7 separate regions of the Homo sapiens genome follow, and regions 1, 2, 3, 4, 5 and 7 are each reported to be linked to region 6. Evidence: microRNA targets listed by miRTarBase, many of them from high-throughput screens and not tested one by one. Region 6 holds a microRNA gene; each other region holds the end of a gene's coding sequence.

The links. The annotated mature microRNA hsa-miR-1914-3p reads GGAGGGGUCCCGCACUGGGAGG and lies in region 6 at 1,979-2,000, opposite strand. An mRNA with a match to its seed (bases 2 to 7 or 8) in the 3' UTR can be bound and repressed. Matches are read on the target gene's strand: a 7mer-m8 pairs with bases 2 to 8, a 7mer-A1 pairs with bases 2 to 7 and ends in A, and an 8mer does both.
Region 1: the mRNA of ARRB2 is a reported target of hsa-miR-1914-3p. Seed matches in the 3' UTR shown: 7mer-A1 at 976-982.
Region 2: the mRNA of APEX1 is a reported target of hsa-miR-1914-3p. Seed matches in the 3' UTR shown: 7mer-A1 at 3,384-3,390.
Region 3: miRTarBase lists ALDOC as a target of hsa-miR-1914-3p. Seed matches in the 3' UTR shown: 7mer-A1 at 2,212-2,218.
Region 4: the mRNA of ANKRD11 is a reported target of hsa-miR-1914-3p. The part of its 3' UTR that is shown has no 7-base or 8-base seed match.
Region 5: the mRNA of ARHGEF2 is a reported target of hsa-miR-1914-3p. Seed matches in the 3' UTR shown: 7mer-A1 at 1,312-1,318.
Region 7: the mRNA of GPN2 is a reported target of hsa-miR-1914-3p. Seed matches in the 3' UTR shown: 7mer-m8 at 2,233-2,239.

Annotation. Positions count from the first base shown.
Region 1 is chr17:4,720,166-4,724,323 of GRCh38, forward strand. ARRB2 (arrestin beta 2) reads left to right here. Exons shown (of 15, transcript NM_004313.4): 12 at 51-134; 13 at 228-307; 14 at 421-475; 15 at 781-1,332. The coding sequence ends at 874. Among named protein-coding and RNA genes, the nearest start is that of MED11, 9.2 kb to the right of the region's middle.
Region 2 is chr14:20,456,778-20,460,935 of GRCh38, reverse strand. APEX1 (apurinic/apyrimidinic endodeoxyribonuclease 1) reads right to left here. Exons shown (of 5, transcript NM_001641.4): 4 at 4,076-4,158; 5 at 3,169-3,945. The coding sequence ends at 3,428. It overlaps PIP4P1 (phosphatidylinositol-4,5-bisphosphate 4-phosphatase 1), which reads left to right. Exons shown (of 7, transcript NM_144568.4): 2 at 91-281; 3 at 638-744; 4 at 1,203-1,308; 5 at 1,496-1,548; 6 at 1,640-1,730; 7 at 2,234-3,255. The coding sequence ends at 2,377. Among named protein-coding and RNA genes, the nearest start is that of PIP4P1, 2.6 kb to the left of the region's middle. RefSeq lists silencers at 1-47, 3,552-3,846 and an enhancer at 1-182.
Region 3 is chr17:28,571,121-28,575,233 of GRCh38, forward strand. It overlaps ALDOC (aldolase, fructose-bisphosphate C), which reads right to left. Exons shown (of 9, transcript NM_005165.3): 3 at 4,003-4,113; 4 at 3,832-3,886; 5 at 3,576-3,736; 6 at 3,374-3,457; 7 at 2,947-3,121; 8 at 2,615-2,814; 9 at 2,000-2,501. The coding sequence ends at 2,406. PIGS (phosphatidylinositol glycan anchor biosynthesis class S) reads right to left here and starts at 404. Exons shown (of 12, transcript NM_033198.4): 1 at 343-404; 2 at 1-68. The coding sequence starts at 376. RefSeq lists enhancers at 1-44, 735-784.
Region 4 is chr16:89,264,942-89,268,949 of GRCh38, reverse strand. ANKRD11 (ankyrin repeat domain containing 11) reads left to right here. Exons shown (of 13, transcript NM_013275.6): 13 at 287-1,320. The coding sequence ends at 472. Among named protein-coding and RNA genes, the nearest start is that of ZNF778, 49 kb to the right of the region's middle.
Region 5 is chr1:155,944,577-155,948,734 of GRCh38, reverse strand. ARHGEF2 (Rho/Rac guanine nucleotide exchange factor 2) reads left to right here. Exons shown (of 22, transcript NM_001162383.2): 22 at 720-1,881. The coding sequence ends at 793. Among named protein-coding and RNA genes, the nearest start is that of MIR6738, 4.7 kb to the left of the region's middle.
Region 6 is chr20:63,939,496-63,943,653 of GRCh38, forward strand. It overlaps MIR1914 (microRNA 1914), which reads right to left and starts at 2,049; the gene lies at 1,970-2,049. UCKL1 (uridine-cytidine kinase 1 like 1) reads right to left here. Exons shown (of 15, transcript NM_017859.4): 8 at 4,158; 9 at 1,615-1,713; 10 at 1,455-1,548; 11 at 1,299-1,361; 12 at 1,099-1,221; 13 at 883-990; 14 at 655-811; 15 at 334-560. The coding sequence ends at 481. MIR647 (microRNA 647) reads right to left here and starts at 3,231; the gene lies at 3,136-3,231. RefSeq lists enhancers at 2,823-3,536, 3,537-4,158.
Region 7 is chr1:26,876,236-26,880,393 of GRCh38, forward strand. GPN2 (GPN-loop GTPase 2) reads right to left here. Exons shown (of 5, transcript NM_018066.4): 5 at 1-3,514. The coding sequence ends at 3,442. GPN2-AS1 (GPN2 antisense RNA 1) reads left to right here. Exons shown (of 2, transcript NR_199049.1): 1 at 1-75; 2 at 1,883-2,010. Among named protein-coding and RNA genes, the nearest start is that of GPN2-AS1, 2.2 kb to the left of the region's middle.

The DNA.
Region 1 (4,158 bases), not on the chromosome of region 6:
AGGTGACAGGGTGATAGGCCCTGGTCTGACTCCAACACCCTCAATTGCAGCGTGAAGGAGGGTGCCAACAAGGAGGTGCTGGGAATCCTGGTGTCCTACAGGGTCAAGGTGAAGCTGGTGGTGTCTCGAGGCGGGTGAGTGTCATGGGGGAGCCTGGGTGGGGGTCACACTGGCTCTCTCTAGTCCCATGTCGTCGTCCTCTTCACGATGCCTCTCCCCTTCCCCAGGGATGTCTCTGTGGAGCTGCCTTTTGTTCTTATGCACCCCAAGCCCCACGACCACATCCCCCTCCCCAGACCCCAGTCAGGTGAGCACACTACCCACCCCAAGCCCTCAGAGGGAGGGCCTGAAGCAGGGCCAGTGGAGGAAAACTGGCCCTTCCAGCACCCACCCCCACACCCCCTCTTCCCGTCCCCCCAGCCGCTCCGGAGACAGATGTCCCTGTGGACACCAACCTCATTGAATTTGATACCAAGTAAGAAACTCATTCCCCTACTTGACCCTCTTGGGACAAAGATTCCTATAACATTCAAATCTGCCCTCATACCTCTTCCTTGCTTTTGGTGGGGAGAAGCGGATTGTAGCATCAAATCAAGATGCCTTAGCCTTGTGAGGCTGCCTCTTGCTGCCTTTTCTTTGTCCCTTCCTGTAAATACCTCTGGTCCCACTGCTGTTCGAACGCCTCTGTCCCAGAGGCCTAGCTTCGGGGAGGGCAGGGAGTGGGAGGCTGGGACAAGAGTCAGAAGCCCTCACCTCACAACCCTCTTTCCCACCACCAAGCTATGCCACAGATGATGACATTGTGTTTGAGGACTTTGCCCGGCTTCGGCTGAAGGGGATGAAGGATGACGACTATGATGATCAACTCTGCTAGGAAGCGGGGTGGGAAGAAGGGAGGGGATGGGGTTGGGAGAGGTGAGGGCAGGATTAAGATCCCCACTGTCAATGGGGGATTGTCCCAGCCCCTCTTCCCTTCCCCTCACCTGGAAGCTTCTTCAACCAATCCCTTCACACTCTCTCCCCCATCCCCCCAAGATACACACTGGACCCTCTCTTGCTGAATGTGGGCATTAATTTTTTGACTGCAGCTCTGCTTCTCCAGCCCCGCCGTGGGTGGCAAGCTGTGTTCATACCTAAATTTTCTGGAAGGGGACAGTGAAAAGAGGAGTGACAGGAGGGAAAGGGGGAGACAAAACTCCTACTCTCAACCTCACACCAACACCTCCCATTATCACTCTCTCTGCCCCCATTCCTTCAAGAGGAGACCCTTTGGGGACAAGGCCGTTTCTTTGTTTCTGAGCATAAAGAAGAAAATAAATCTTTTACTAAGCATGAGTGTGTGTTTTCTCTGTAGTGTTTAGAGAGTGTATGGTGTGCTTATCCATGATTCTGTTAGCTTGTGGGGGAGGACCCAGTCTCTCTTCTGCACCCAAAAGCCACCTGACACGGAGGCTATCAGCAAATGTTTATTGGATGACTGTGCTGTGGCTGTGTTCCAGGGTAAACATCAAAACTTGACTTAGTCCAAACTCAAGGGTGAGGCTTGATAAGGCCACAAAGTGAACTTAGTCATTTCTAGAGGTCACAGTAACTAAACTAACTCGCCTGCACACAGATGCTCACGGGAGCTAGCCAGGGCAGGCCCTTCCCTGTTGCGGCCGACGCACATGACCACCTGTGACCTGTTGTGACCGAGTCGCGTTCATTTCCACTGCTCCTTATGGCTGCTCGAGCCATCTGCTCCTGTGGCTCAGCGGTGCCACAACCGCAGGCCTCACCAGACAAGCCACGTGACGTCTCTGGAGTCTGGTACCTACATTCTAACACAGAAGCTGAGGCTTGGGCAGCAAGAACGTCATGCTGCCGTGGGCCCCTGTCCTAGGGACCACATCTTAGTGCTGTTCATGGGATATTCATCAGGGACTCCCTGAGGCTTGACCGAAGCCCCAGGCTGGGCTGGAGGGAGGTAGCATCACTCCACGAACATTTCTCACCTCCATCATCTGCTTCCACTCCTGAAGCCCAATCTTTCTCCTAAAGCTCCTTCATGCATTCCACAAACAATCTGGATTTGAGTCCCTACAAAGTACCAGGCATAGTATAGCAGTACAACAACAACAACAACAACAAAAACACATTAATTCATTCCCTTTTTTTTTTTTTTCTTTTGAGACAGAGTCTTGCTCTGTCGTCCAGGCTGGAGTGCAATGGTGCCATCTCGGCTCACTGTAACCTCCGCCTCCCAGGTACAAGTGATTCTCCTGCCTCAGCCTCCGGAGTAGCTGGGATTACAGGCGCCCGCCACAACTCCCGGCTAATTTTTGTATTTTTAGTGGAGATGGGGTTTCGCCATGTTGGTCAGGCTGTTCTCAAACTCCTCACCTCAAGTGGTCCACCCGCCTCGGCCTCCCAAAGTGCTGGGATTACAGGTGTGAGCCACCGCGCCAGGCCTCCCTAGTTATTTAACTACAATATCTTTGCTTCAGAGGAGAAGTACTGGAGCCAGGAGAACGCGTGACAGGGAGTTCTGAGCTAGGTTGGGTTTGGGGAAGATTTCCCTGAGAAAGTGACCTTTAAGCAGAGAAGTGAAAGATGAGGGGAGTTCGGGGACCGTCCAGGGATGAGCATTCTGGGCAATGGCAGTGTCGTGTGAAGGCAGGAGGAAACAACACATCTGGGACCTAAAGAGGCCAGAGAGACTGGGACAGAGACAGCCAGAGGCAAAGTAGTTCCTTCTGGCTGCTGAGCCAGATGGGGACAGCTCGCACAGGCCTTTAGTCTATGTTATGACTCGTGACTTCTAGTTAAATCGCCATTTACCCACAAGCTTTAAGTACTGCCAAAAGGCCCGTGACCTTGCTTACCCCGCCACGGCGGCAGCCTCCCCTGCAGAACCTGGACTTTCTCATGCGGAAGAACGGAAGAACCATCCCGCCTAATACCATCTCCAGCATCCCTCCGACTCCCGTGCACCTGCTCCTTGACCTCTAAGCCCAGGTATCTCAATTTTTTTTTTTTTTTTTTTGAGATGGAGTCTTGCTTTCTCACCCAGGCTGGAATGCAATGGTGCTATCTTGGCTCACTGCAACCTCTGCCTCCCAGGTTCAAGCAATTCTTCTGCCTCAGCTTCCCGAGTAACTGGGACTACAGGCACACGCCACCACGCCTGGCTAATTTTTGTATTTTTAGTAAAGACAAGGTTTCGCCATACTGGCCAGGCTGGTCTCGAACTCCTGACCTCCTGATCCGCCCACCTTGGCCCCCCAAAGTGCTGGGATTACAGGCGTGAGCCACCGCGCCTGGCCGATCTCAAATTTTTTTCAGGAGAATCAGAACCCTCGGGGTGCCATGGTAAAAATCCAGAGTTGGGCTCCACCTTTCCCGATTCTGAGTCACAAGGTCCCAAGAAGAATCCAAAAATCCGGATTTTTAATTAGTACACACTTTGAGAAACTGCCCTTTTTATTTATTTAATTAACTTATTTATTATTATCTTTTTTTGAGATGGAGTCTCACTTTGTCACCCAGGCTGGAGTGGAATGGCGCAATCTCAGCTCACTGCAACCTCCGCCTCCCGGGTTCAAGCCGTTCTCCTGCCTCAGCCTCCCGAGTAGCTGGGATTACAGGCACGTGCCACCATGCCTGGCTAATTTTTGTATTTTTATAGAGCCAAGGTCTCGCCATTGCACTCCAGCCTGGGCGACAAGAGCAAAACTCTCTCTCAATAAATAAATAAATAGTCTAATTCAATGGCATTTAGTATACTCACAATGTTGTACAACAATCCCCTCTGTCTACTTCCAAACATTTGGCTTCCTGTATTTTCAATAACAGATAAATTTTTTTAAATTGTCTTTCTTAAGGCCGGGCGCAGTGGCTCACACCTGTGATTTGTAATCCCAGCACTTTGGGAAGCCGAGGCGGGTGGATCGCCTGAGGTCAGGAGTTCGAGAACAGCCTGGCCAACATAGTGACACCCCGTCTCTACTAAAAATACAAAAAATTAGCTGAGCATGGTGGCGGGCGCCAGTAATCCCAGCTACTCGGGAGGCTGAGGCAGGAGAATCACTTGAACCCTGGAGGTGGAGGTTGCAGTGAGCTGAGATTGTGCCACTGCACTCCAGCCTGGGCAACAAGAACAAAACTCCATCTCAGAAA
Region 2 (4,158 bases), not on the chromosome of region 6:
AGGGTTGAAGATCAGAAGGACTTCCCTACCACCGTGGAGCATCAGTGGGGGTGTAAGTGATCCCAGCCCTTCTATTTGCTTCCTCTCCAGCATTTCCCCCGTTTCCCGAGGGGCATCCAGCCGTGTTGCCTGGGGAGGACCCACCCCCCTATTCACCCTTAACTAGCCCGGACAGTGGGAGTGCCCCTATGATCACCTGCCGAGTCTGCCAATCTCTCATCAACGTGGAAGGCAAGATGCATCAGCATGTAGTCAAATGTGGTGTCTGCAATGAAGCCACCGTGAGTTACACATATCTATGAAATGGGCCCTGTTTCCTGGATCCTCTTTCTGATGTCTTGGTTCTAGACCCTGACCTTCCGGCTATTAGCCAAGTGCTTTTGATGATACCCAGGTTTCAGTTCCAGGTGTCTCACACAGCCATTTCCCCAGAAGCCACTCACCAAAGCTAATGTTCACTTTCTCTCACTTTTACACCTAGCCTAGTTCCTATTTGCAAATCTCATGATATAGTCTTTCTTTTATTTCTCCTTCCTGGTTAGCACCTTATTTTTCTGATCTCATAAAGTGTTTTTGGAGGGAAGTGGAGGGGATTGGGATTAGAGGTTTGCTTGCTGATGACCCTATTATTCTCTAGCCAATCAAGAATGCACCCCCAGGGAAAAAATATGTTCGATGCCCCTGTAACTGTCTCCTTATCTGCAAAGTGACATCCCAACGGATTGCATGCCCTCGGCCCTACTGGTAAGAGGCATAAGGTGGGGAAGGGCCTAAGTGGGGAACTGGAAAGTCAAAAAAGGATGAGCGTATACAGAGAATGTAAAGGTGAGAGAGCCTAGTGTTTATTTAGGAGAAAAGGCTTTGAAGCATGTGCCTCAGGAATGTTATAGCTGTCTTTCTCGTTTCTCAATAAAAATATTGAGATGAAATGATGTCGTTTCGGAGAATAGAGAGCCTTGGGGACTGGGTGTGTTATCCTGAGGTCGGAGGGGAATTGGGGACCTGAAGTTTAAACAGTGCTCTTTCTTTCTCAAGGATTCTTGAGGGTATACAGTTGGGGGACAGAGTATCTTAAGTACAGAGAAGTCGAGTGACTTAATAGACAGGGAGTGGGGGATGTGGAACAGGGACTGTGAAGATTTTTAGGATTAAAAATTTTTCAAACACAAGTTTGAAAATACAAGTCTTTTTCTTTTGTATAGCAAAAGAATCATCAACCTGGGGCCTGTGCATCCCGGACCTCTGAGTCCAGAACCCCAACCCATGGGTGTCAGGGTTATCTGTGGACATTGCAAGAATACTTTTCTGGTGAGGAAGGGGTATTGGGAAGGGGAGGGGAAAGGAGACTAAGAGTCATTTCGAGTATATTTCTTAGAGTAATGGTAATGACCCCTGAAAGGTCTGTCCTATGGGAACATGTTCTGCATCCCCACCCCAAGGTTCTCATTGAGGGAGACCCTGCTTGTGCTATTATTTTTGTTTTCTTTCTCCATAGTGGACAGAGTTCACAGACCGCACTTTGGCACGTTGTCCTCACTGCAGGAAAGTGTAAGTGATTAGGGATTGAGCTGGTAATTGATGTATGGAGTAAAAACTACAAGGCCATAGAAAGCATCCATTTCTATTTGCCTCCCCACAGGTCATCTATTGGGCGCAGATACCCACGTAAGAGATGTATCTGCTGCTTCTTGCTTGGCTTGCTTTTGGCAGTCACTGCCACTGGCCTTGCCGTGAGTACCCTTGCCCCAACCTCTTTCATTCTGCAGCCTCATCTCCATAGGCTAAGATTTGGGAAACTGCTACCCTAAAAAAAAGTGGAAGAAACTTGGGGGACTAGTTTGTTTTGTTTTAAGATATGGATGAGCTAAAGTGCAAAGTGGCTGATCAAACAGACTTTATTACTACTACAAGAGTGAAAAACAGCCTTCCTTTCTCTGTAGGATGAGGATAGGACAGTGAAATTCTTAATTTAAGAGTTGCTATTTTTCAAACCTGGCTCAGTTGTCAGATATTAAGAAAAACTGAGATACAGTGTGGGATGGGATGAGTATGTTACGCCTAAGGGAAGGAAGCTGATCAGCTCTGCCTTTAAGAAGGTCCCTGAGGGTGGCTACATGTGGATAAGGAACAAGGACTGAAGCGTGAGTTATTACTGTTCTTAGAACTAATAGGAGGTAGTGGAGACCAACATTAACCCCATCTTTCTTTTCTTCTCCCTCCTTATCTTCATCAGTTTGGCACATGGAAGCATGCACGGCGATATGGAGGCATCTATGCAGCCTGGGCATTTGTCATCCTGTTGGCTGTGCTGTGTTTGGGCCGGGCTCTTTATTGGGCCTGTATGAAGGTCAGCCACCCTGTCCAGAACTTCTCCTGAGCCTGATGACCCACAGACTGTGCCTGGCCCCTCCCTGGTGGGGACAGTGACACTACGAAGGGAGCTGGGGTAGTTAAAGGCTCCCGGGGCTTCTAGAAGGAAGCCAAGCAGCTGCCTTCCTTTTCCCTGGGGAGAGGTAGGAAGGAACCAGGCCCTCACTTAGGTTTGGAGGGGCAGATAAGAGCACTGCTGACCATCTGCTTTCCTCCAAGGGTTGCTGTGTCTAGGGTGAAGTAGGCAAAACGTTGCCCTTAAAACTGGGCCCTGAAGACGGTTCCAGCCTTGTCCTTCCTGTGTGCTCCCTGAGAGCCATTCCTGTCCCTTACACATTCCAGGGCAGGGTGGGGGTGGGTAGCCCTGGGGGTTCCCCTCCCTCTTGTGCACCATTAGGACTTTGCTGCTGCTATTGCACTTCACCAGAGGTTGGCTCTGGCCTCAGTACCCTCAGTCTCCTCTCCCCACATTGTGTCCTGTGGGGGTGGGGTCAGCCGCTGCTCTGTACAGAACCACAGGAACTGATGTGTATATAACTATTTAATGTGGGATATGTTCCCCTATTCCTGTATTTCCCTTAATTCCTCCTCCCGACCTTTTTTACCCCCCCAGTTGCAGTATTTAACTGGGCTGGGTAGGGTTGCTCAGTCTTTGGGGGAGGTTAGGGACTTATCCTGTGCTTGTAAATAAATAAGGTCATGACTCTACGCTTTTTCAGTTGTTAACTTGTGTGCATGAAAATATGAGGAAGAGAATGTGTAGCCCCACGAAGGGGTAAGACACGAAGACAGCAAGGCTGAAACTATGGCTCTTTATTTTCATGTGGATAATTCAAACAAAGTCATTAGTAGTCTTTGTTCAATTTTTTTTTAAAAAACAAAAAACCCTCAAATAAAAAATCTTGGGCTTAAAAGAACTCTATCACAGGAGCCTGGTTGGAGGATTCCTAGTTTTATACATGAGAAATAGAATGCAGATTTCTCTGAAGAGTGTTTAAAGAAGGAATGGTAGTTGAGGGGGCTTATTTCCCAGGCTCAAAGTGATTTAGGGGTGGTGTCACAGTGCTAGGTATAGGGTGATAGGACAGTGATCACTGCCGAGGGCCTTGGAACGGATCTTGCTGTCACACAATGCAGGTAACAGAGAGTGGGACAACAAAAAGTAATCAAGGCGCCAACCAACATTCTTGGATCGAGCATTCATCATATAAGTCCAAAAGGTGTAGGCATAGGGTGTGTTGGGGTAGAGGTGCCTAAAGCTGTCAGCCAGTGGCACAGCCTGCAGTAATTCCCCGAAGCCTTGGCGCTCTTGTGGCGTGAAGCCAGCATTCTTTTTGTTCCCCTTGGGGTTGCGAAGGTCAATTTCTTCATGTGCCACATTGAGGTCTCCACACAGCACAAGGGGCTTTCGGGAAGCCAGGCCCTTCAGGAACTTGCGAAAGGCTTCATCCCAGCGCTGCCGGTACTCCAGTCGTACCAGACCTCGGCCTGCATTAGGTACATATGCTGTTACCAGCACAAACGAGTCAAATTCAGCCACAATCACCCGGCCTTCCTGATCATGCTCCTCATCGCCTATAGAAATGAAACAGAATTAGCATAAAAAACTATAAGAAAAGGGAAAGCAATCAAGAGGTGGGGCAGAGATAGAGAATTAGCAATTGGTTTTGAAGAGTTCAGGCATTAGGCATCAATAGGGTCTCACCTATGCCGTAAGAAACTTTGAGTGGGCACTGGCGGGAAAGCAGGCCCACGCCACTGTACCCTTCCTTGTCCGAAGGAGCTGAC
Region 3 (4,113 bases), not on the chromosome of region 6:
GAGCGGTAGCCCCAGCACGATGGCCACCGCAGCGAAGAAGAGGGCGGCGCGCTTGCCCCGGGCCACCTCTGAGGGCATGGGGAACCGACTGAGGCGCTGGAAACGGGCTAGGGTACCGGCCCCATCCCCGACGCGGAGAAGCCCCAACCACCGGCCTCCAGGGGCCCGCGTTCATTGGGATCTCCGTGCGAAGGGACCCGGCCCAAGCCTGAAGGGAATCTCGTCTGAAGAGACCCCCGAGCCCCCCGTCCGCGGGACCTCTCGCACACCACAATCCCCACCCCTGCTATTCCTCCCTTGCCATCAGCTAGCTGCAGGCCCCCCACCCGAAGCCCACCGCACCTAGGTGTGTAGCCGCAGCCCCGGCGGCCGCCATGCTAGCTTCCGGCTGCTCCGGCCACCGTGGGGGCAGAGCTTCGTGAGCCTCACCCAATCGGAATCTCTGCAACGAGGGGGCAGGACCGCGGCGGTGATCGGGGCCAATCGCGAGCGCTACTCCAGACCCGCAGACGGGAGCAAGCGGGCGAGGGGTGGGAGGGCTCCGCTGGGAGCTTCGCTGGGGATCTGAAAGGAAGTCACCCGGGCGCGGAGGGACAGCCTAGGGGCCGTGCGGGTTTCGGCGCTGCTGGAACGAAGTTCCCCGCTTCCCTGTAGAACACACTTCTAGCCCCGCAATCAAGAGCGCAACCTCTGCAGTCCTTAAATACTAGCTGGGCAACTACAGGCAGCTCCGAGGCTCATCTGAAAATGGAGATATTTACATAAATGAGGCCGTTCTTGTAAGGAGCCTGGCACACGGAAAGCCCTCAACGTCAACTGTCACGGTCTTATTATCCTTATCGTAGAACTCCTCTTAGGGTGCCCTCTCCTCAAAGCCTCAAACACGGAGGTAGCAAGCTAGTATGTTTTAGCACAATTGGCTCTCTCGCTATTTTAAAATACGTTTTAATTCATTTCCAACTTGGAAAACTCAGAATACTTCACTTAAAAATCTTGAAAAGTCATGAGCCCAGACTCTAGATGCTGATCACTGCGGTTCAAATCCTGGCTTCATCACTTATTAGGTGAGTGATCGTGAGAAGATCGTTCTGTGCCTATCTGTGCCTGTTTTCTCTATTAAAATAGGGATGATAGTAATAGTACCTACTTTATAGAGTTGTATGAAATGTGTCAGTACATATAAAGTGATTAGAACAGGGTTGGTGCTATGTGCAAGCTATTTTTGTTATTATAAAGTCAGGCCACACAGGGTGGAGCATTTGTAGCCTCCCCAGTTGACACAGAACACACGCAGCTTGTTATCTCTTCTTTTTATCTGCTTAGACCCAGGTTCTCAGCCTACCTCACAACCCAGCCCAGTGGTTAAAGTTCAGCATCAGGCCTCACCAGAGCTGTCCTTACCCAGACCCTCCAATTGGCTCCCTTTGTGCCCACTTCTACCCCAAATGAAAATGGGCCATAGCCCTTGGCAACCTCCTAGATGCCCTGCTCAGCCCTGGCAGCCCGCAGAGCCTTGGTTTTCCTCTTTGGGCGGGAGTCCAGGTGCTCGCTTGCCCTTACTGGTGTGGCTCACCCTAGTGGAAGGTACCAGGTCCCAGCTGGGCTTAACACTGCGAGATGGGAGAGACTCCCACCCACTCTTATCCCAGCCTGTCTTGCTGCCTCCCTGCTTTGAGCCTTGCACAAATCTGCCTTCAGGAGTTGCCAGTTTGGCCTCACTCCATACTTCTGTAGCTGCAGCCCAGTGCCACTGATGTGGCAGTCCCTAGAAGACTTGCAGTCTTCCTCATTGCCCCACTCCAGACTTGGACATCAAGAGAGCAAGAGCCTGAGCTGGGGATGGTGACTGCATGTGCCCTTCCTCCATAACTTGAAGCCCAGTAAGACTCAAATCCCACCCTCTCCACCTCCAGAGTCAGAGGGCCCAGAGATAGAATTAGCAGAGATCAGAAACTGGGAGGTGGGAATTTGATGTGTAAAACAGACAGGCAAAGTAGAATGTTTTGCTACCATTTATTTGCTGTATGGTATGTACTCAAGGCATGAGTCAGGGCTTCTGTACTACCCTCTGATCCCAGGAGACAGGGCAGGCAAGAAGGAGAGCCCAGGGAGAAGCTACCTCATCATGGGAAAATTGTGGGAGCTGGAAGAGGTAGGGGGAGACCCAGCCATCCTGTTCTGACTTCTAGCAATTTCTTCTGCCCTCAGTCATGAGGGGCTCCCTATCCTCCCATCCTATGGTCCCAGGTGCAGCAATGAGAGAGGGGAAGGGAAGAGAGAAAGGAAGACAAGTTGGTGCCAGGTGAAGGCATCTCTGCTCTGCATAGCTATTTGGCCCTGGCCATGACTACAAGCAAAAGTGGGTGCAGATGGCTGGGCCAAGGGCTGTGGTATGGAGTGGATACTCAGTAGGCATGGTTGGCAATGTAGAGTGACTGTGCTGCTGCTCCACCATCTTCTCCACTGCCTTCATACTTGCCCTGGGCTGCAAGCCCATTCACCTGCAAAAGGGAGCGTGGAGTAAGCAGGCTGAGCCAGCCCACAGGTGCCAAGCCCTGCCCAGGCTATAGCCTCTGGGTGCTGCCCCCACCCACCACCACCTGTAGCTCCCAACCTCAGCCCGCTTGATGAACTCCTCAGTGGCAGCCCCAGCATTGTCCCGTTGCCCTCGCCAGGCATTGAGTGCAGAGGCTTGCAGGGCACGCCCATAGGAGAAGGTAAGCGCCCAGGGTCGGGGAAGGGGGCAGCGGTTGATGGCATTGAGGTTGAATGATGCCTCTTCTTCGCTCTGACCCCCAGACAGGAAGGTCACTCCTAGTGTGGAGGAGAGAAGACAAACTGACTGGTCACTCCCAATTTTTCCAGGATAGGGAACCCCTGAAGGCCACAAGAAGGACCTGAAGATGGGCCTTAGGGATAGGAGCAGGTTAGGGAGCTGGGTAGTACCTGGGACAGCTGGGGGCACAGTGCGACGCAGGGCAGTGACAGTTGCCATGGCAATCTCCTCTGGGGTATACTTGATGGGACAGGCATGGCCCGGGGTCACCATGTTGGGCTTGAGCAGGGTCCCCTCCAGGTATACATGATGGTCACTCAGGGCCTTGTACACAGCAGCCAAGACCTGGGTGGGGATTAGAGGAGGTTTACTAAGGGTCTGGGCCCCCACTGGTTACTGCTCGATGCTCCCTATGTAGGGGTAGATGGGCACAGACTGTGAGGGCTCAGTACAGGCTCAGATCACAGGCCTGTGCCGGGATGAAGTGAAAAAGTGCTAGGGGAAAGTGTGCCTGGATCTAAGCTGGGGGTTCTGGGGAACAGACACTCCTGCCGAGCTGTCCCTGCAGTATGTTTGTGTGCCCAGGTGTGGACTCACCTTCTCTGTAACATACTGACAACGTTTGAGGTCGTGGTCTCCATCAGGCAATATTTCAGGTTCCACAATAGGCACAATGCCATTCTGCAGGCAAGAGCAGAGATGCTTGGGAGGGGCAGTAGGGGAGATGAAGAAAGCCTTGTGACTCTCTCCCCACCAGGCATACAGGGCACCTAGCTCACCACCCTCCCAACACACACACCTGCTGGCAGATACTGGCATAACGGGCCAGCACGTTGGCGTTCTCCAGAATGGCAAGTGCAGAGGGTGTACGCTCACTGATTTTCAGCACACAGCGCCACTTGGCAAAGTCAGCACCATCCTTCTTGTATTGGGCACAGCGTTCTGAGAGCCCATCCAGCCCTGCAAGCACAGTGCCAACCTCATTACTCTGCCCCTCTTTTACCAGCATCAACTATCTAACACCTCTTTGGTCCTCAAGCCCACCCATCCTATACCTTGAGTGGTGGTTTCTCCATCAGTCCCAGCTAGAGGCACCACACCCTTGTCAACCTGTAGAGGAAGTACAAGCAGAGGGTTGAATCCAGGCAGGATTCTCCTTGCTACCCCTCCTACACAAGCTTATTTTCACACCCAGCTTCCATTCAGAGCAGGGCCAGGGGCTGCACCTTGATGCCCACGACGATGCCCTTATCCTGGATGGTTCGGACGAAGGGAACACCATTATCATCTTTCTGGTAGAGGGTCTCATGGAAGAAAATGACGCCTCCAATGCACTT
Region 4 (4,008 bases), not on the chromosome of region 6:
GTCCCAGGCCCACCCAGAGCAGGGCAGGGCCCCCGGGCCAGGGTGAGCCCCAGGCCAGGGTAGAGGTGGCATAGACAGCGGTTATGGGGACAGACATGTAGCACAGCTGGCGCTACCGCCACGTGTAGTAACTAGATGCCAGGAGCGGGTACAGCTGGGCCTGGCCCATACCAGGGTAGGTTCACGGCCGTATCACGCCCTTGGCCCTGCTGGCAGCTGAGGTCGGCAGAGTCTGGGGCTCTCCCTTCACTCCTCCTCCCTCCTCTCCCCGCTGTGTGTCCCGCAGACTTGCCTCCTCATGCGGCAGCAGCACGAGGCCGCGGCCCTGAACGCCGTGCAGAGGATGGAGTGGCAGCTGAAGGTGCAGGAACTGGACCCCGCCGGGCACAAGTCCCTGTGCGTGAACGAGGTGCCCTCCTTCTACGTGCCCATGGTCGACGTCAACGACGACTTTGTATTGTTGCCGGCATGACACCGCGGGACGGCCGCAGGACGCAGGCGAGGGCCGCACGGCTGCCCAGGACTGCTGCTGAGCCCCAGGGGCGGAGGAGGGAGCGCCCTGTCCACCCGGGCGGGGAGAGACCCCGAGAGAGACTGCACTTGGCCACAGCGCCTCCATCCCTTCCAGACTGGTCCAGACGTCGGGGAGGTGAAACACGTCTCTTCTCTACCAGCTGCCGCGGCGGGGGCAAAGCCCCCAGAGCCTCACTGGCCCCGGCGGGATGAGGAGACCATGCCGGGCGCGCACACACGGCAGCTTCTGTTTGAAAACGGCGACCTTCGGGCCCTTTTCTCCAGCAACTGCAGAGGCATTTCAGGAGTTGGAGAACGGAGTACATTTTTAAAATTTTTTGTTCCATTCTGATCAACTAAAGAAAATTAAGGTGTCCACCTCTCACAAACAGTGACCTGCAGGTCGGAGGGGCAGGAGCCCCATCCCAGCCGTGGTTCTGTTGCCGCCGAGCTGCGACGGCCTCAGACTGGGCTTCAGACCTGGTGCGGAGCCAGGCGGAGGGACACAGAGCCAGGACTCCCAGCCGTATTGAAATGGAGTCAAATCCGCGTGGTTTGTATCTTCTTTCCTTTAATCTTGGGCATTTTGTTTCTCTTTCTGAGAACGTAACTTGAAACACTACAGAGCCAATAATCATATAAAAAGTGTATCCGTAAACGCTGTACAGTTTTATATACCTTCACAATGTACTTTTGCTGCCTTCTAGATAATTTATTTTGCAACACATTACTGCACAGTTGTAAATAACTTATGTACTGTAACATCACTTTCAGTTATGTGTAAAGAAATAAATAAATTAATTAAAATGCTCTTTGTACAGTGCGTCCCTCCAGGAGAGGGGCTGTGTGTGGGACTGACACAGTGTCGCCCCTCTCGACGACCTTCTTACTCCCAGGACAGACGTGGTGGCTCACGCCTGTAATCCCAGCACTGTGGGAGGCCGAGGCGGGAGTCTGAGACCAGCCTGCCCAACATGGCAAAATCCCCTCTCTACTAAAAATACCAAAAATTAGCTGGGTGTGGTGGCGCGCGCCTGTAGTCCCAGCTACTCCGGAGGCTGAGGCAGGAGAATCGTTTGAACCCAGGAGGTGGAGGCTGCTGTGAGCTGAGATCACGCCACCCTACTCCACAGCAGACTCTGTCTGAAAAAAAAGAAAACCTTTTTCCTACCAAGTTGTTAGCTTTTAATTTTGAAACAAATTATCTGTTCCCCTCGTCCTCTGCCTTTGCACAGACCGGGAATGCTGTGGAATTACTGCCTCTTGTAGGAGCTGGAGAGAAACAGGAGCATCACTCCCCACGGATCTGAGCACTGCAGCCGTGGCCAGACCCCGTGGCCAGCTGTGCACGCCCCTGAGCTTCAGCTTGTGGCTGGCTGGCTTGTGCCCCTGCCCACAGTTCCCTGGCAGCTGCAGCTGGTGAGGGTCCGCGCTTTGAGAGCCCTGTCCTGGCTGGAAGGCAGCTCAGGCAAGCATGGAGATGCGAGGCCTCTGCTCAGAGGATCTTGGCACAGAGGATGCCTGCCAGGACCCTCCAGCCAGTGTGGCTCCAGGAGACTGTTGGCCCCCGGCGTGACAGGAGGGTGAGCTGATGGAGGCGCCTCACCCTTTTCCTTCTGAGCTGTCTGTCCCCTGTACCTGGGTGCTGGGGAGGGAGTGGCAGCTACAGAAACAACCCCCACAGAAGAGCAGACACTGCCCGTGCATCAGAATCAACAGGGTCCTGGTCACTGGGTCCCCTGCGGAGGAGCCCGACCTGGGAGGGTCCCTGAGCCCTGCCAGGCTGAGCCAGTGGCGGGGGCAGTGGCTTCATTCCCCCAAAGGCTGCTGTGAGCTCCCTCGCCAGCTGGGCCCCTGCGTGGGGTTGGGGGTAGGCGTGGGGCCATGCCCCCTCTCCTGTCTTCGATCTGTGAACAGAACTTTTGTGGATTCCCTCCTGTTCCCTTCAGGGCTGAGCCTGAGCAAAGGCAGGGTTGTCCACCTCATTTACGGGCTTGGGGTGGGGGTGTGGAGAAGCCAGAAGGTTCCAGTCTATTTTTCTGGGTTCGGATTAGCTGTGGTTTGTTTTGGGGGCTTCGTGGGTTTTTGGGGGTTTTTTGCTTGCTTTTGAGATGGAGTCTTGCTCTGACCCCCAGGCTGGATGGAGCACAGTGGCGCAATCTCAGCTCACTGCAGCCTCCACCTCCTGGGTTCAATTCTCCTGCCTCAGCCTCCCGAGTAGCTGGGACTACAGGCGCCTGCCACCACACCCGGCTAGTTTTTGTATTTTTAGTAGAGACGGGGTTTCACCATCTTGGCCAGGCTTTTTGTTTTCTCCACACCCCCTCAATCACAGAACTTTGGTCACAGTAAAACTTCCTTTAAGCCCTGCCTTAAAAGAAAAACCTGAGTCAGCCTGTGTCACACAGAGCACGCTGCAGTTCCAGCCCACAGTGGTGACGACGTCCCGGCCACCATGCTGTGCCTCCCTGTCTCGGGTGCCCACGAGGGGTGTCAGGCGAGAGCAGCTCCCTTCCGGCCCCCACCCTGGTCTGCTGGAGTCTCGGCTCCCGTGCACCTGCCAGAGATGCCGCACATGCGACTCCCAAACAGCCTCCTGCCATAGGGGACGAGAGACAGCCTGCCGCCCCTCAGAGAGACTTGTGAATAAACACTGAGAAACGTCAGAGTACCCAGAACCGCAGGAGCCTGCGTGCCAGCCTGGAGACCCTGCTGCCCGGGGCCACCCATGTGGGCTTCAGACCGCTCTCGGGAGTCTCTGGCTGGAGCTGGAGGAAGATGGCGTAACCCCACTCGCTCAACTACATCCATGGACCCCAGCGCTACCCAGCTCCTGCCTGGGAGCCCGGGCTCTGGAGCAGGCTGGCTCTGAGGGTCCACCACCTGTAACTCAAGCCTTCCTGATGCCTTCCCTTCCGGAGGCTCTGAGGACTGCCATTAGCAAAAAAAAAAACAAAAAACAAACAAACCCAAAGCACAGAGCAGGTGAGTGCTCGGACCCTAGGCACTTCAGGGAAGCCAGCACCCCTCCCTGGCACAGGGTCCCCCTCTCAGGGAAGCTGGCGCCCCTCCCCGACACAGGGTTCCCCCTCAGGGAAGCCGGTGCCCCTCCCCAGCCGAGGGTCCCCCTCTTAGGGAAGCTGGCACCCCTTTCTGGCACAGGGTCCCCCTCTCAGGGAAGCTGACACCTTGCCAAGGCGTAAGGCCCCAGGCTTCAACAGAAAAAGGAAAGAAATATGGCGGCTTTTGCTGCTGTAGAAGAGAAGCTGGTGGCTTTTGTAAAACCTGGAAGGAGGTGAGAGGTTTTTGTGGAAAGCCCGTGAGCCGTCAGCTCCCCGCACAGAGAGCGCCTGCTCTGCCCAGGAGACCGTGCAGCATCTGGCAAGACAGGTCTCCATTCAGGGGTCGCCATTTCCAAGCGGCAGCTGGGCCTGGGCCTGAGCCTGGCAGGAGGGGAAGGGCCCCAGCACGTGGAGCCGCACACAACCTCCACCC
Region 5 (4,158 bases), not on the chromosome of region 6:
CAAACTCCTGGGCTTAAGTGATCCTCCCAAGTAGCTGGGGCTACAGGTACATACCACTGTGCCTGGGAAGGTATAGTTTTTTGTTTTGTTTTGTTTTGTTTTTTTTGAGACAGTTTTGCTCTGTCACCCAGGCTGGAGTGTAGTGGCACAATCTCAGCTCACTGCAACTTCCACCTCCCAAGTTCAAGCAATTCTTGTTCCTCAGCCTCCCGAGTAGCTGGGATTACAGGCGCATGCCACCACATATAGCTAATTTTTGGCATTTTTAGTAGAGATGGGGTTTCACCATGTTGGCCAGGCTGGTCTCCAACTCCTGGCCTTAAGTGATTCTCCCACCTTAGCCTCCCAAAGTGTTAGGATTATAAGCACGAGCCATGGGGCCAGTTTTTAAAGTAAAAAAAGTTTCAAAGAACTTCAAGTTTTTACAGTTGGTTCATGAAATAAAAAATTACCAAAAGCTTTAACCTTAAAGTATTTTGTATTTTCCTAATCAAATTGTATCTTTGGATACTGTAAAAGTGTATCCGGTACCTAGGTATGGATACCTTGCTTACTTTGTTGCCAAAGGTTTTCCTCTCACCCAAGAATTTACAGAACCCTGTCATCCCTTCACAGCCCCAGAGCCCCCTGAGCCTGCAGATGGGGAGGCATTAGTCTAGGGGTACAGTTCCTCATGGGAGTCTCTGCTAACTCACTGGCTTTGTCCTGTCCCCCTTCAGACTTTACCAGAATGCAGGACATCCCGGAGGAGACGGAGAGCCGCGACGGGGAGGCTGTAGCCTCCGAGAGCTAAGGGGGCCCCTCCCCCCTGCCCCGTGCCCCACTGAAGAACATTACTGAGGGGGCTAACCTTGGGGACTCCAATTTGCCAATGATGAGGGAACATTTGAAAGAACTGCAAATTGTCCTTGCCAGCTCTTGGGATCCTTGGATACCTGGGGCCATTTAAGAAGCTAGGGGAATTAGGCCACAACACCCCCTGGGACATCCGAAAGCTACACCACAGATGCCAGTGGTTCATGCCTTCTTCCCGCAACTTTAGGAAAATTTATTTATTTATTGTTTATTAGTTATGGGGGGAGAGGGGAGATTTAAAGGACCAGGGACATGGGAACCAAGCCATAGGGATCAGAGGGCCTTGTCCTTGAACACTACTGGGGTATATTCAGGCTCATCCACGCAGCTGCTGGGTTCTTGCCCTAACGGCCCTCCCCTGCAACATCCGTCTTGGAGGAGAGGCTGCAGCCACAGCACCCTACTGCCCTTTAAATAAAGGAGGGCTGTGGGCAGGGCCATGTCCCTTTCTCCTCTCCCCTCAACCTCTTACTGCTGTTCTCCCTTTCTCCGTCCTTCATGGAAGCCCTGGGAGATAACCTGGCTTCCTGGAGTTGATGGAATAAAGGTTGGGGTGGCCATAATGGTTTGTTGGGGGTGAGGGAAAAAACCCACAGGGACCAGAATGTTTTGTTGTTCTTTTGTTTTCTTTTTTGTACCAAAGTCAACTGCACGTGTTTTATATTTTTAAGAGATCGTAGGCAATTAGAGATCGAAGCCTCCTATCTCCACATCTCTGAAGAAGTTGAGGGGTGGGGGAGAGAATGACTTCTGCCTTCATCTGCAGTAACGGGGGGACCTATACTGACCTCTTCCCCAGCCATTTAGAAACAAGTTCTAGGGTGGGTTGGAAAATCTCCAAGAGCCCTGACCTCATCTTCCACCTCAGCAACCATGACCTGAAACCTCAGCGTGAATTTGGGGGATTTTTCAGTGGAACCCTTGCCCCCAAATGTCGACCAGCCCCCAAATGTCGAAGAATTTTCTTCTTGCCAATTTTGTTGTTTAAAAAAAAAATTCAGGGAAAATTAAAAACCTGGAACTCCATAAGGTACTGTCTTCCATAATGTCTGCCAATTCTGAGGAGGATGGTAGTAGAGAGCCGGGCAGTGACCTAAGTTCCTCTGAAAGGGGCCTTTTCCTCTCACCGCAAGGACAGCCTCTGCCTCACTGAAGAGAGGGGGCACTAACAAAAGTAACCACTGCAAATCTTTTTTTTGTTTTTTTAATTCACAAATACAAGGATAAAAACAAAGGGGCACACAGGTTCCAATGTTGGGAATTCCGGTATCAGGAAAAGTGTGTTCATCGTATTTGTATGCCATGCTCAGCAATCACCTCCACCTATTGCCCCCATCCCCAGTGTCATTCATTGTCAGATCCATCCCCCACTAGGCCCTTGTTGATCTCCATGATGTCGGGCCCTGGGGTTACCCGTCACAGGAGCTGCTCATTTACTGTCCCTCTTTGAGAGGCAGTGAGAGATGAGCTGGTTTCAGTTCTTGGTTTTAGTTGGTTTTACTTCCTGTTCCCAGTTGGTACTTACTTTGGGGCTGTGGGGGAGGGGAGGAGGTGAGAGTCTAGGGTTGTATAAATGCTGGTATGAATTCACATCCCTGTTGGAGCCTGTGGGGTCAGATCAGGAGAAGGGGGCTCAGGCCCTCAGCTAGAAAGAGGAATTGAAGTCACATGGGGAGCAGGCTGGGGGAGCAGCCAGCACCCTCCCCTTCTGTAACTCTCATCCACCAGCATCAAGCCTTTACAAGGTGCTTTCTCAGCCATTACGGGGATCCTGAGAATGGGGAATTGTTCTCATTTTATGGGCCGGGAAACCTAGGTGCACGAAGCTTGCCAGGCCAGGAGGGGGCCGGCCTTCTTAGTTCCAGTCCACCACTTTTCTCTCTTGGCTACTCTGCCTAAAAATACCAGGGCTGGCTGGGTGCAGTGGCTCACGCCTATAATCCCAGCACTTTGGGAAGCTGAGTTGGGTGGATCACTTGAGGCCAGGAGTTCGAGACCAGCCTGGCCAACATGGTGAAACCCCATCTCTACTAAAAATACAAAAATTAGCCGGGCGTGATGGCGGGCACCTGTATTCCCAGCTACCTGGGAGGCTGAGGTGGGAGAATTGCTTGAACCCGGGAGGCAGAGGTTGCAGTGAGCCGAGATTGTGCCACTGCACTCCAGCACTCCAGCCTGGGTGACAGAGCAAGACCCTGCCTGGAGAAAAGAAAAAAAAAAAAACACCAGGGCTTCACATTTCACACACAGGGACACAGGGCTCAGCAGCTGTCTTCCAGGTCAGCTGGAAGTATCTCCGACCCAGAGCTGTGAGGGTGGCACCTTTAGGTGGGGAAGGAAGGTAGGTGGGGGTAGGGTGAGGATATTAGACAGCATGCAGAGACCACCAAGAAAGGGGAATGCAGGCTCTCCCAGAATGCCCCACAGATCCAATGAGAGATGCTGGTCAGCAGAGAACATGGAAACCTGGAGACACAGCCCAGAGTGGGTGTGAAGTCCCCCGCTGCTTTCTTTGAAGCAGTGCTGTCCCTTCTGCCACCCCGTACCAACCCCCTCCACACACACACACACACACACACACACACACACACACACACACCTTCAGCCCCAGAACATGGGGCACAAGCATTTGTCTGATGTGTCTACTCCTGAGAGCTAGGCCTCTTCCTCACATCTTTCACCGTTGTGTCCCCTGTCCCCTCCCTAACCCACTTTTGGGAACCCACAGTCTTAACCTCTGTCCCTCCTGCTGAAGTTTCAAAGCCATTTGGCTTGGTGTTCCAGGGAGCCAGGGCCCAGGTTCTCACCAAAACATTGCCTTCCCTCCGTTCCAAGGGGAGCTCCAGGCCGCCTGCTCTGCCCAGCCCTCCCTTCTCCATCCTCCACTGCACCCTCCTCGTTCCACTCCCCCACAAGAGTAGGTCTTTGTGCATGCAGTTCATCTCTAACTTGGACCTGTGTACACTTTGTCAATATTTACCTCTGGGGCCCATAAAGCAGAGATGCCCCCAGAGGAGCCAATATCCGGAGCCCAGCAAAGCCATCAGAGGGAGCTGCTGGGGTGGGAAGATGGGTGCTTAGGTGGTGAGGGATTTTCCATTGCCTGCATGGGCTAGGAATAGACGTGGAGTTTTGGAACTAGTTTAAACATCATCAAAAAGAGGAAATTAAACAAGAGGCTAATTAAGTTCCTTTCACATTGCTTAATCTGTTGTGAATTGGGTGCCTCTTTGGAGCCTCCTCTGCCCAGCAATTAAAGGAACTGGGACAGGGGGCACCTGGAGGCACTGTGGCCTCCCCCTT
Region 6 (4,158 bases):
TGTGGGGAGGACCCTGATGGTACAAATTTGTGGGTGGGGGCAAAACAGCCTGCCTCTTGTGAGACCCAGAGCACCAGGGGGCCCTGTCCCCTCCCTAGGTCCAGGCCAGGTGGCCACCAAGCTATGGGTTCTAGGGGCCCCATCTAGCAGAGCTAGGAGCTGCAGGGCCCAGTTCTACCCCTTCCTTCATCTGGCACAAGTGCAAGACTGGGAATGCTTGGTCCTGCAGGGGAGAAGGCAGGGCCCTCAGCTCCCTCCCTCCCTCCCCATGGGAGTCTCCACAAATGCATGCCTCAGCCAGGACACCTCTCCTGTGCTGTAACCAATCACACCTTCATTTTTCTAAAGCTTTATTTATTTTATAAAATGCATAGAATAAATTATACTAGTAACATTTTAAAAATTAACATCTTTGTATTCAGCAGTCCTGGGTCAGGAGGCAGGAGGAGGGTGGTGGGGACGGGATGGCTCACTGGGCAGCTAACCCGTGTAGGCCACTTCCTCCTCGTCACTGCCATCGGGGACCGCGTCTGTCCCAAAGTAGCGGTCGCCAAAGTTCCCTGGAAAAAGGGGGGGGGGGGTCCAGTGTGGTGGGGCCTCCCAGGGCCACCCACCCTGCCCTCATGTGCGGCTGAAGGGCCCGGGCAGCCTCACCAATGCCTGGGATGATGCGGAAAAGGTCATTGACCCGCTTGTCCACCGCCGTGGTGATGATTCTCACTCGCGGAAATGCATAGGCCACTGAGTGCACGCCCATCTCTGCCATGAGCAGCGACAGCAAAAAGATCTTGTCCTCAGGCACGTCGTGGTCCTACCGAGTGTATTGGGCAGGTAAATCCCACCTCTGCCTGAACCTGCCCCGCCTACCCAGGGCTCACTCACCAGGAGCACGCGCACTGCCATCATGGCCGCCGCGCCCGTGGACACGGTGCAGTCCATGAGGATCACGTGGTCATCGCTGATGTCCTTGGGCAGCCTCAGGTAGTGGAGCTGCGGGCAGCAGGGGTCAGGCTGCAGGTGGGGCTCCCTGCGTCCCCTTGCTGTGAGCTCCCTCTGCCCCCTACCCCCGGGCTCATCACCCCGGCTGCCCCCAGGCACCTCGGGCTCCCCGGTAAGCTGGTTGGTCTGGATGAGGATGGTGCCGATGCGCACGTCTTTGCACACAGCGCGCAGCGCGGGCTCCATGGTTTCACCGGCGCGCAGAATGGACACACCGGTGATCTGCGGGGAGGGGAGGCTAAGCGCCCACATCCCGCCCCAGCAGCCTGTCCCGCGCCCAGGTGTGCCCAGGCAGGTACCTGCTTCCCCGCATAGCACTTGCCCGCATAGTCCTGCCCCTGCGGGGTCTGTACGACGCAGTCCTGTGGGGTGCAGGGTGAGGACTCCGGTGAGCGCAGGGAGCTCGCACCGGCTCCAAGACCCACCCTCCACCTCGCGGGCTACGGGCTACGAACCTGAAAGGGCAGGAAGGAGAGCGCGTGCTCGATGAGCAGCCGCATCAGTCTCTTGGAGTAGAAGATGAACTCGTCGCGACTGGTCTCCTTGTCCCTGTGGGGCCAACAGTTGAGCGGGAGCACGCGCCCGGGGCCGCCCCGTCCCCAGGTGGGCCCTCACCTGATGATGGTGTGCATGCCCCGTACCTGCGGCGTGCTCTTCAGGACGCTCAGCGTCCGGGGCAGCGGGTGGCACTGGTGTGCCGAGGCCAGCGCAGCCCTGGGGACAAACCGATGGGGAACACTCAAGAAGGGGGTCTTTTCCCAGAGCCCTCCCTCCCCACAGGACGGCTGTGCGTCACTGTGAGGGGAACACACGGGCCAGGCACAGCACGAGGTGCAGAGCGGGCCTGACTTCTGCCTGGGGCTGAGCTGGGGGGAGACGTCGCCCTACCTGAGCTGTCAGGCAAAGGCGAAAGATGGCGGCGAACAACGGGGCAAGCTCACCATCAGGCAGAAAGCTAGCGGGGTAGGCTGTGAGGGCCCCTCCCAGTGCGGGACCCCTCCTGCGCTAAGAGGAAGCAGAAGTGGGCCGGGCACAGGGCGGGCTCACACGTGCTGATAGGTGTCATACCCCAGAATGGGTAGCTTGTCCCCAGCCTCTCCCCGGGGGAACTAAAGCTTTGTGGGGTCAGGCCCCGCCCTGGCTCCTCCCCGAGGTGGTGCGCGGCCCCTCAAGAGAGGGGGGTGGGGGGCAAAGCTGGCTCAGTGTCTCTTGGCTGTCCCGTCCCGCCCCGCTGCCCAAGCCTGGGGATGGCCGGGGCAGCAGCAGGTCTAGGAGCGGGCAGGAAAAGGGCGGGGTGGAGGCAAGAAAGAGGTGGGACAGGGAGGAGGCAAAGCCGGAAAGGGGCATGACAGGGGCAGGGAATGGGGCGGGGCAGGAAAGGGGGTGATGCAGGGGCAGGAAGAGGAAAGCGACAGGCCACAGAATTGGGTGTGGCAGGGGAAGGAAAGAGGCAGGGCACGGAATTGGGTGTGGCAGGGCAGAAAAGAGGCGTGACAGCGGCAGGGAAAGGGGCGGGGCCGGGAATGGGGTGTGGCAGGGCAGAAAAGAGGCGTGACAGCGGCAGGGAAAGGGGCGGGGCCGGGAATGGGGTGTGGCAGGGCAGAAAAGAGGCGTGACAGCGGCAGGGAAAGGGGCGGGGCCGGGAATGGGGTGTGGCAGGGCAGAAAAGAGGCGTGACAGCGGCAGGGAAAGGGGCGGGGCCGGGAATGGGGTGTGGCAGGGCAGAAAAGAGGCGTGACAGCGGCAGGGAAAGGGGCGGGGCCGGGAATGGGGTGTGGCAGGGCAGAAAAGAGGCGTGACAGCGGCAGGGAAAGGGGCGGGGCCGGAAATGGGGTGTGGCAGGGCAGAAAAGAGGCGTGACAGCGGCAGGGAAAGGGGCGGGGCAGGAGCAGGAAAGAGGGCCTAGCGGGAGCAGCGGGGCAAGGGGCTACGGGAAGGCGGGTCACACAGCAGCACCACGGAGCACACTGCTCACATATCCCAACGTAGCTTCCTCTGCTTGCCAGGTGAAGAGCATGTTCAGGGAGGGAACAAGGCAGGAAACGGGGGTTTACAGAGAGAAGGAAGAGAACAAAGAGAAGGCTGCTTAGTTGGGGAGCAGGGCGTTCCCCGCAGGCCTGAGGAGGAGTGTGGGCGGTCAGGCCCCCAGCCCTGCCTGACCCTCCCTCCTGCCCCCGACCAAGGCTTCCTGGGGCTGAAGGAAGTGAGTGCAGCCACAGGCCAACACTTCCTTGGCTGACCAGACGACGGAAAATGTGTCTGGCTGCGTTCAGGTGTTTTTCCAAGTTTGAAACCCTGGAAAGTTTTTCCTCTCAGAACAAAAGCTTCAGGAGGAACCTGACGGGACAAGACCTGCGGGTTCCTAGGCCGAGGAGAGGGCCAAGCGGAGACTCATGCAGGCACCGGAAGCTGGACGGCTGGTGGACGGGCCCTGGAGGCATTTCCAACATTTGGCAAACTCTTTGGAGGGCTCTGAATGTGAGGGCTCTCCCTCCAGGTGGCTCAGTCAGGAGCCTCCCAACCCACAGAAGGCAGGGAGAAGGGCAGGTCCCTTGTGGCTGACCCCCCTGCATGCCTGCCCTTGGGGAGGGACAGTGGGATGCGGCCCCGGCCCAGCCCAAGCTTCTTGCTGCAGTTGCCCAGTTCCTGCTGGCAGAGCTGTGCGGGCTGCGAGGACAGAGCTGGGGCAAGCAGGACCCGGGTGGGTGGGAGGACAGGCGCGAGGCCCTCCACCTGCAACCAGGGAAAGCTGACTGGTCCGTGAGGCTGGGCACAGGAGGTACAGCAGGCTCCCTGGCTGCTGGGACATGTCTGTAGTCACTGCCCCAGAGGCCTGGCAGTGCTGGCTCAGGAGGACAGCTGTGCTCTCTGGGGTCAAATCCCATAGACAGACTCAGGAGTCAGGGGAGCCTCCAGCAAAGTCTGGCCAGGACAGGGTCAGGACTCCGTGACGCTGGGCAAGCTACTTCACGTCTCTGTGCCTCAGTGTCCTCATCTGCCAGCAAGGGGAGGCAGAAGCAGGGCTGGGACCACTCCACACCACCCCTTCTGTGACTGGGGAAGAGCCAGCTGCCTGGCTGGATCACAGCCCAGACCCCAGAGCTCCTTGGAGGTGTTGGAAGTGCCTCCATCTGTGCAGACAGCTGTGCAAGTCTTACC
Region 7 (4,158 bases), not on the chromosome of region 6:
ATGTACTTTCCATCTTGTTACCCAGGCTGGAGTGCAATGGCGCGATCTCCGCTCACTGAAACTTCCGCCTCCCAGGTTCAAGCGATTCTCCTGCCTCAGTCTCCTAAGTAGCTGGAATTACAGGCGCATGCCACCATGCCCTGCTCATTTTTTTGTATTTTTAGCAGAGACAGGTTTTCACCATGTTGGTCAGGCTTGTCTTACACTCCTGACCTCAGGTGATCAGCCCGCCTTGGCCTCCCAAAGTGCTGGGATTACAGGCGTGAGCCACCGTGCTCGGCCTTCTCTTTCATTTTCTAAGTTTTTTACTTTCCTATATTTATTAGGAAATTTAAAAATAATCTTAAGGATGACTGCCACATGCCAGCCATAATGGAGGATGGTCTTTCTTCTACCCTAGACATTTCACACTGAACAGGCCTCACTTGGATCTCGGACATCTTCCTTTCTGCACTGTGCAGATCCCCTCAGTATATGCAGAGAACAGAAAATCATTTTGCTGCCAGTGGAAGGTAGACAGAAGCTACGTTTATTGGGGAAGAAAATACCCTTGCTGTCAAACCATGGCCTGAAAATAAAGGCCTTGGATTACTCCCACCCATCTCCACTCCATGGGTGCAGAGAATGCTGAGGGTGCTTGCATACGAGACCATAAAGTTGTAAAGGATGCCTTCCAGCCCCCATTTGGTTTGTTATGGTGAGAGCTGGGGCCTCTGTGAGTGGCAAGCATCAAAACCCACGACCACAGCCGTTGGTACTGCTTTCAAAAGCATAGCACCCACCCTAATGCCCTGATAAAGGATTTGTCCAGTAGCCTGGGCGTCAGGATTCCTGGGCTCTAGGCCCCACAGGTGATTCACAGCTAGCCCCAGGCTGTGCCTCCTGGCCTCAGTTTTCCTGGCTTGCTCTATTGGTACTTCCTACCTACTCTGTGGGGTGTTAATAGGGGTGAGGTGCTTTGAACTTCTCAGATGAAAGAGGCTGGGAAGCAGCACCCAGTTATTATCCCCTTTACAGCCAGGCGTGGGAGCTGAGGTTGCTTTCATACTGTTCCAGCCACAGTAGCCTCCTCATAGCCCCTCATTCATCTGCCTTTGGCTCTGGCTGCCACAACCAGAAAGCAAAGCAGTCAGTCCTATTTCAATGCTGTTTCAGAACAGATGTCCCTAAATTAATTTGCCAACTGCCCAAACCACTGGTGAACTATCTATGATTCAGTAATACTTTACAGGTGCCTAATTTCTTTCTCCTGATTGGCTGCAAAACCTGTGGGACAAGGGCTGTGACTTCTCACCAATAAATATACCAAAGGAGGGATACTCGCAATTTAGTCAGCAAAATGGGTTATGAGAAAGCCAGGCTGACCAAAGTTCAAACTTCTCATCTTTCTGCTTCCTCACTGTAACACGGGCAATGGCTTATTAATTCTCCCCATCCTGTCTATCTCTAATGAGGATTGTGTGTGTGGAAGCACTCTAAAATACCAAGCACTTCATATGTGTTAATAAGTCCAAATGTGGCCGGGTGCAGTGGCTCACGCCTGTAATCCCAGCACTTTGGGAGGCCAAGGCGGGTAAATCATGAGGTCAGTAGTTCAAGACCAGCCTGAACAACATGGTGAAACCCCGTCTTTACTAAAAATACAAAAATTAGCCGGGCATGTGGTAGGCGCCTGTAATCCCAGCTACTCGGGAGGCTGAGGCAGAGAATTGCTTGAACCTGGGAGGCGGAGGTTGCAGTGAGCCGAGATTGTGCCACTGGACTCCAGCCTGGGCGACAGAGAGAGACTTTGTCTCCAAAAAAAGAAAGTCCAAATACATGCAAATAAAACTTGGCATAACAGTCTTGCCCAAGCCATCAGTCCTGCCCCTTCTGCCACCAGGTTACAACTGCAAAAAATTAGGTTGGGGTGCCACCTACTGGTTGAAAAATATATGAACTGCATCCAGCCAGTTGCAAGAGCAAAGAAAAAACTTCCAAGCCCTCTTGATTTTTGCCACACTCTCATAGGAACTGCCATATTATATAATTAATATTTTTCTTTACACAACTTACTATTTTTTTTTGAGACAGAGTCTTGCTCTGTCGCCCAGGTTGGAATGTAGGCACAATCTTGGCTCACTGCAACCTCCGCCTCCTGGGTTCAAGCAATTCTTCTGCCTCAGCCTCCCCAATAGCTGGGATTATAGGCGTGCAACACCATGCCCAGCTAATTTTTATGTTTTTAGTAGAGAGGGGTTTCACCATGTTGGCCAGGCTGGTCTCGAACTCCTGACCTCAGGTGATCCGCCCGCCTCAGCCTCCCAAAGTGCTGGGCTTACAGGCATGAGTGAACACGCCCAGCCTTGTATTTCATTTTTGAAGTACACCTTTTTTTTGAGACAAAGTCTCGCTCTGTCACCAGGCTGGAGTGCAGTGGTGCAATCTCAGCTCACTGTAACCTCTGACTCCTGGGTTCAAATGATTCTCCTGCCTCAGCCTCCCAAGTAGCTGGAACTACAGGTACGCGCCACCTATGCCCAGCTAATTAAAAAAATTTTTTGGTAGAGATGGGGTTTCACCATGTTGGCCAGGATGGTCTCGATCTCTTGACCTTGGGATCCGCCTGCCTCGGCCTCCCAAAGTGCTGGGATTACAGGCGTGAGCCACCGCACCCAGCCTTGAAGTAAACTTTTAACCACTACTGTAAATGGAAAACTAGTTAACACTTGTCAACAATAGAATAAAACCATAAAACAAATACAGTGAATATAAAACATTAACAAAGTTCTAGTTAGGAAGTGTTGCCTGTGAAAGCTGAAGCTTGAGGCTCTGTTAAAACTGAAAATTGTGGGACATGGTGGCTCACACCTGTAGTCCCAGTTACTCAGGCGTCTGAGGCGGGAAGATCACATGAGCCCAGGAGTTTGAGTCCAGCCTGGGCCATATAGCAAGACCCCATCTTTTAAAAAACAAACCTCAGAACCAAAAACTGAAGATTAATAAAAACACATGACTGGAGACTGAATGTAAATCCTATGTGACTGAATGTGAATTATATGCTTTGGGGAAATACTGATTATTCCAAGGCTAGGTGACACTCCCTCATTCTTCCCCAAACCCCTGGGCCCGGAAGACTGAAGAAAAGTTTGGAAGTCACAAAAAGTAGAAAATAAACTCTTGTATTGTAGCACATTTCATCACAGCCTGACTAGGACCAGTGCTCGACTTTCTGGTGGCAGGGCCCAGAGCTCACGGACACCACTGACAGTATGGGGGGTGTTCTGCTTGGCACCATGTCTGGCTTTTTGGCCAGAAGTCCTTTGCAGAGCTGAATATCCCCTTGCCAGCCCGCCAGCTCTGGCTGGGAGGACTTGCTCTTGGGTCTGCAGCCTGCATCAGGAGCCTCCACTTTCCCCAGTGCTGGATTATGCATCCTGCTCTCCAGGGTCCACCTTGTTGCTACAGCTGCATGGCTTCCTGCTCCACTGACTGGTTCGAGGGTGCCAGGTACTTCTCCTGGATGCCCAGTGTGCTGAGGAAGGGTGCGTCAAGGCTGATAGCATAGGCAGAGGATGGGGAGCTGGTCTGGGCAGGATCTGACTTCCGCTGATGCCTACACTCCAACCATGTCCATCCCTCTCTTCCTCATAATTATAGGGACCAATCAGGTATGAGAAGCCTCCAAAAACACCCAGACTCAAATGCTCCTCTATCTGCCTCTTCCACACACTGCTGCGGATCAAAGGACTGGACAGTACTAACCTTGCAATTTTGCGTTATGGCACATGCTCTGGAGCCAGACTAAGGGAGTTCAAAACCTGATGATGTCTGGGTCTGGGGTCTGACGAGGACATGGAGGTTAGCCATGGCTAGGTTGGCTATGTTAGGACACCATGGCTGTTGTACTACCAGATGGCTCCAAAGTAAGAAACAGATTCTACACCCACCAAAACCAAGGTTTGAACTGTTCTTCCAAAACATCCCGGGAGAGGGACCTTGGGCCTGTCGCCTCAATTATAAAAGGGGTTGAAATGAGGATTAAATGACCCTGCAAGTAAAGCACTTAGCCCACCAAATGATGTTCGAGTTACAGACCTTTCTTTTTCTTTTTTTTGAGACAGAGTCTCACTCTGTCACCAAGCTGGAGTGCAGTGGCGCGATCTCGGCTCACCGCAA